Linked DNA regions of Homo sapiens. The protein of the gene in region 2 interacts with the protein of the main gene of each other region in a pairwise test. Each region holds a gene or a part of one and is shown on either strand. Other genes may lie near its edges.

Region 1 (3,500 bases), on a different chromosome or scaffold from region 2:
AACAGAAAACTCAAAAACCCTTACACTCATGGATCTTACAGTTTCTTTCTTCTCATTTCTACAAAAGGTTTAGGAAACTGAATTTCAGAGCTGTTTCTTCCCCGCTCTGACAGAGTCGTGAGCTCTTACAGAGCCCCTCACTTGTTCCCCTGGTCCTCCTGGAAGGGCAGTGCCATCACATACTGACTGCTGTCTTAGTCTTCCCTCACTGTCCCTCTAGACCTGTGCCATTCTGAGCTGGATCTTCCTGCTGGCTTCATTTTCCTCTTTCTGGGATCATGCCCTTGTCCTGGTGAAGTATATCCTCCTAAACTTTCTAAGAAAGTACATTTCTAAGAAGTCTCTGAGAAAGATAATCTTGGCTTCCTCCTCTTTCTTGCACATCTGTTGGTATTCAGCCTTTACTTGCACACTTACAGTTTGGCTAAGTTTAGAATTTTAGGTTGAAGAATTATTTCACCCTGAGTTTTGAAGGCAATGCTTCCATTTCTTTTAGCTTCCAATGTTGCTGTGGAAGGGTGCAAAGCAATTCCATTTTTCACACTTTATATGTGGCTGCTTTTTCCCTCTTGGAACCTTTCTGGTCTTCCTTACTTCATCTGTGGTGTTCTGAAATTTCACATGGCACGCTCTGGTCTGGACTTTTTCCTTACTATGTTTGATTTTAGGTGGGCCAATTAATCTGGAATCTCATTCCTTCAGTGAAACATTTTCTTCTATTATTCTCTCTGCTCTTCTCTCTTCTGGAACTCCTAATAGTCATTGCATCTTCTGGATTAATTCTGGAGGATTCTTTATGTCATCTCTCCCATTTTTCACCATGAGTTTATTTAACATATTATTCTGATTGCTCTTTTTAAGTATGACTTTGTTTCTATTACATACTCCAATGCAATCTCTGCTCTTCTTCCTAAGGATACTGTGGTTTTAGTGTGTTTTTCTTACTCCCTCAAAGTTCCAGCTTCTTTACTTTGAGCTCTCTCTTTTGCTATAGAAACTTTCTTCAAAATTCTGCCTGATCATTAAGAGCAAGGAATGAAAAAGTCTAAAAGAAGCTCTTTATGTGTGGGTGGAGCAGGTGGGCTTGGAGGGTTTCACTTTCAGATGACTGGATAGAGACTGGGCTGTTTGACTGGGAAAGCAAAATGTCACTACCTTCAAGCCTTTCCTTTCTGACTATTCATTTTTCTGCAGAGAAGGCTCCTTTCTCCTATGTGGGACATACACACCTGGCTGCCAGCGACCAGGGAAGAGGTAGGGGAGGTGGGTTGGGGGCCAGAGGCTTTCATTTTCACTTAATTTCCCTCTTTTCAGGCCTGACCCCATGCCCTCAGGTGGGCCTTATGACCTTGAGTCTAGACTCCATTTCAACGTAAAAGACTGAACCTCTTATTTCGTGTGTAAACATGAACCTCTGTAACCTCTACCTCCTGTAGAACCTGATGCTTCCAAATCCTGACCTTTTCTGGGACTCCAGAGGAAGAAATGGCTTCCCCCATTACAGTACTTAAGGTGGAGCTCCTTCTGCTGTCAGAGCACCATCTACTTCCTATCTTTAAGATTTTTTTGGAAATCTCTCAATCATAATTGTGCACTCACTCAATCTTGGCCTTTTTGAGTTACTTCAATTTCAGTTACTTAACAGACATTTCAGTGGGGTTCTGAGAGGGAAGACATAAATGTCTAATTGAATCCACCATGTTTAATCAATGCTTCCAGAAAAATGATGGTGATTAAAGGTGGTTATGGTATTTTTGAAGCAATTATTGAACTTCAATTACTTAATTAATTTTTGAGATGGAGTTTTGCTCTTGTTGCCCAGGCTGGAGTACAATGGCGTGATCTCAGCTCACTGCAACCTCCACCTCCCGGGTTCAAGCGATTTTCCTGCCTCAGCCTCCAGAGTAGCTGGGATTACAGGCACCTGCCACCACGCCCGGCTAATTTTTTTATTTTTAGTAGAGAAGGGGTTACACCATGTTGGCCAGGCTGGTCTTGAACTCCTGACCTCAGGTGAGGAGGTCTGCCTCGGCCTCCCAAAGTGCTGGGATTACAGGCATGCGCCATTGTGCCCAGCCAAACTTCAATTATTTAATATACGACATGTACTCAACTTCAAGTGAAATGTTTACAAATGGGGTGGATTTTATTTCACTGAATTATAAAACTATGAATATCAGTTCTGACTTTGTGCATCTGTGCAAAAACCACAACTAAAATATTAATCTATTTTCTTGCTTTAGTAGTTACAGAATACTAAACATGTAACCTCATTTGCAGTGACTGAAGTCATTCTGAGCCTCAGTTATGACCCTATTGTAATTAAAGTGTGGAGAGAATATTTTGTGGAGTGTGTATCAAACATCAGAACATGCTCTAGTTAATGTAAAACAAAACAAACCCTCACAAGGTTTTAAAAAGTTCTTCTTTAAAAAAGGAACACAGAAAAACAAGCTTGTGCTTTGATTTGAATCTAGAAACATACTGTACAATACACAGTGCCACATCCTCCTGAGAATGGGTCAGCCTCCGAATTATAATGCAGTTGCGCGGAGATCCTCCTGTATTCTTTAGTAATCCATGCTGCAGAGAGCTAACCTAAATTTTAGCTGTCTTGTCAATCAAAGTTTCCAAAAATGAAGTTTCTGAGATTAGGACAAGGAAGGGGTGTGTTGGGGAGGGAGTGAGACCTTATATATTGAGAGAATATCATCAATTATTTTAAATCAAATTTTCAAATATTTTTATTAAGTTAGAGAAAAGCTACCTGAATCGTTCTTGTCCTGCTGTATCCCATATTTGTAACTTTACATATTTACCACCAACATTTATTATCTTTGAACCAAATTCCACTCCTATTGTATGATTTGAGTCATCTTTGACTAAAAAAGAAAAACAAGAACAGCATATTTAATTTTAGAACATTAACAGGCTTATAGATTTAAACAAGTGACACTAAAACCAAGAGTTACATCAATGGGGAATGGACATTACTCTAGCCATTCATTTCTCCAACATTCCATTGAGAAGATGCATTTAGTTTTAAAGATAATACACACAGCCCCTATTCTCAAAGAGACATAAAGATTTTTCTCAAAACCCCCAAACAAATGATACATTTAAAAACCTATGCCTGAAAGTAGCCCTGCCATATCCGAACCACATCCAACTGTGCACTGTTAAGATGCTCACAGATGGTGACTGCTGACATACCAGCGTACCATTCTGAAGGGCATAACGCCCAGTGACAGGTGTGGAACTCAGTAAGTAATGAGGTGGAGACAGTTTCAACTACTGTATTTGAATGGTTAAATATTTTAAAGAAATAACAGTGAGTGGAAGGAAAAGCAGAGGAAAAGGGAAAAGGAGGAAAAAAATTGAACCAAAGAAAAAACACCCTCCAAAAAACCCCAAAACAAAGCACCCTCCAAAAAACCCCAAAATAAAACACCCTCCAACAAACCCCAAAACAATACACCCTCCAATAAACCCCAAAACAA
Region 2 (2,521 bases):
AGGAGAGGAAGATGAGGCACAGGGAGAGGAAAGGAGAAAGTGGACAGAGAGACACAATGGAGAATGGAGAGTGGAGAGATGACAGAGAAAGAGAGAAGAGGGAGGAGGCGAGATCAAGAGACAGTGCTTTCCTGTTCTCCCCTCCACAGGCCATGGTCTTGTCAGTAGCTTCGCTGAGTTCCGAGAGGAGAGGAGAGAAGCCGCAGCACAGAATGGAGAGGGAGGGCCAGGTGAAGGCTGGACCAGGGCTGAGGGCCGGGGAGGGGACACTGACCGATCCGGCTGTCCATGACGTAGGTCTCAATGATGGCGCTCTTCCGGCAGAGGTCCTCTGCCATGGAAGCACTGCTCACTTCCAGGTGCTTCACCTGCAAGATGGCCCAGCCCACCTGAGACCCCTCTACTGTACATGTTCACACATGAGGCGGGCCCGGGCAGACCCCACACCCACAAGGGCACTTCAAGTGGGGATGGGCAGGCAGGCAGGCAGGCAGCACCTTCTCCTCCAGCATCCATTTCTCCTGCTGTGTCTCTGCCAGCCGCTGAAAGAGCTCAGCCACTTCCTCATCTGACAGCTCTGCTGGCCGAGGGGGCTGGGCTTGAGGGCTGCTGGATAAGGACTGCAGGAAAGAGAAGGGGAGAGGCCAGCCCCGGGCTCAGCACCACCGACCCCAGACAGGTGTCAGGGACTGGGGAGGAGAACCAGGCCAGAGGTGGGTGAGAGAACATGGGCCCTGAAGCTGGGACTGTTGGCCCATCTTGGTACCCTCAGACTCTGTTTTCTCCTCTGCCTAAATGGGGGTAGAGAGTAACCACATCAGAGCCTTGTGGAGAGGATTGAAGGAAGATCCCAAAGCAAATGAGATCTAACTTTCAGCTGACAGGAAAACTGGAAGAGAGGGACATGTTAAATCATACCACCAGGAAGCCAGCAGAAAAACCCAAAAGGTAGCATACTTCCTGTGGGGTGACTGGGCTGGCCTCTTCAACAAATTGGTCTCAGGAAAAAAGGGACCGCACTAAAGAGATTTAAGGGCCATAAAACAACCAGATGTAACATGTGCTCTGAATCTGAATGCTAGTTTTCATAAAACCAGCAAGAAAGGACATTCTGGGGCCAACTAGAGAAATCTGGTTAAGGTCAAAGTATCAGACGACATGAATTTTTTTTTTTTTTTTGAGACAGAATTTCACTCTTGTTGCCCAGGCTGGAGTGCAATGGCAAGATCTTGGCTCACTGCAACCTCCAACTCCCAGGATCAAGCGATTCTCCTGCCTCAGCCTCCCGAGTAGATGGAATTACAGGCACGCGCCACTACGCCCAGCTAATTTTTGTATTTTTAGTAGAGATGGGGTTTCACCATGTTGGCCAGGCTGGTCTTGAACTCCTGACCTCAAGTGATCTGCCCGCCTCGGCCTCCCAAAGTACTGGGATTATAGGCAGGAGCCACCGCACCCAGCCAATGACATGAAAATTGATCAAATTGGGAAGGTAGAGACAACAGTTGAATAAAAAACAGGTTAATCTCATCTAGGTTTTAAAAAGAGAGAGAATTCTGGAAGGGTATGAACTAAGAATTTATTTTATTTATTTATTTTTTGAGATGGAGTTTCACTGTTGCCCAGGCTGGAGTGCAGTGGTGTGATCTCGGCTCATTGCAACCTCCACCTCCCAGGTTCAAGCGATTCTCTTGCCTCAACCTTTCGAGTAGCTGGGACTACAGGCACGCACCACCACGCCCGGCTAATTTTTGTATTTTAGTAGAGATGAGGTTTTGCTATGTTGGCCAGGCCAGTTCTCAAACTCCTAACCTCAAGTGATCTGCCCGCCTCAGCCTCCCAAAGTGCTAGGGTTACAGGCATGAGCCACCGCGCCCAGCCCTGAACTAAGAATTTATAATGGTGACGTCTGGATGGTGAAAATATTATTTTTTTTTGACATTTAAGGTTTTTTTGTTTTTGTTTTTTTTTTAAATAGAGTCGGAGTTTTACCACGTTTCCCAGGCTGGTCTTAAACTCCTGAGCTCAAGTGATCCGCCCACCTTGGCCTCCCAAAGTGTAGGATTATAGGGATGAGCCACCACACCCGGCCAGACATTTAAGGTTTTAAAAAAATCTTTGCTCATTTGTGGTTTTTAAAAAATGTACTACAATGAGCACATACTATTTGTGGAACAATAAAAAAGTTATTTCCAAAGGAAAGTGGCTGGTAAGGAGGCTGACATGACAGCCGGCAATAATAATTAGTGATCATTACAAGTTGGAAAAAGGGACCTTCTCCTTGGATGGTGCACCTACTATGAGCCACATAATTTATGGCACCAGAGAAGGGGGAATTAGCCCACAGATGATTAAACAGAAAGTCAGAGAGAGAGAATGACTGGCCTGTCCTGCATGTCGCAATCTGAATCCAAGTTGGTGGGCTTGGGGAAAAGTTGACAAGAAAATATGTGTGCTGCGCCCAAAGTAGGAGATGGGTTTAGGTGAGGAGAAAAGGGGAGGGGTTCTCAGATTTTTGGGT

Evidence for each region. Proteins that work in one complex are often made in the same cells at the same time.
Region 1: the proteins of GRIPAP1 (region 2) and RAB4A interact in binary tests that used the Homo sapiens proteins (3 or more experiments, as listed by UniProt).

The regions. Positions count from the first base shown.
Region 1 is NC_000001.11:229,288,111-229,291,610, reverse strand, and holds part of RAB4A (ras-related protein Rab-4A), read right to left. Parts: intron 2,883-3,500; coding exon 2,768-2,882; intron 1-2,767. UniProt on the Homo sapiens protein: The small GTPases Rab are key regulators of intracellular membrane trafficking, from the formation of transport vesicles to their fusion with membranes.
Region 2 is NC_000023.11:48,975,744-48,978,264, forward strand, and holds part of GRIPAP1 (GRIP1-associated protein 1), read right to left. Parts: intron 621-2,521; coding exon 498-620; intron 369-497; coding exon 275-368; intron 1-274. UniProt on the Homo sapiens protein: Regulates the endosomal recycling back to the neuronal plasma membrane, possibly by connecting early and late recycling endosomal domains and promoting segregation of recycling endosomes from early endosomal membranes.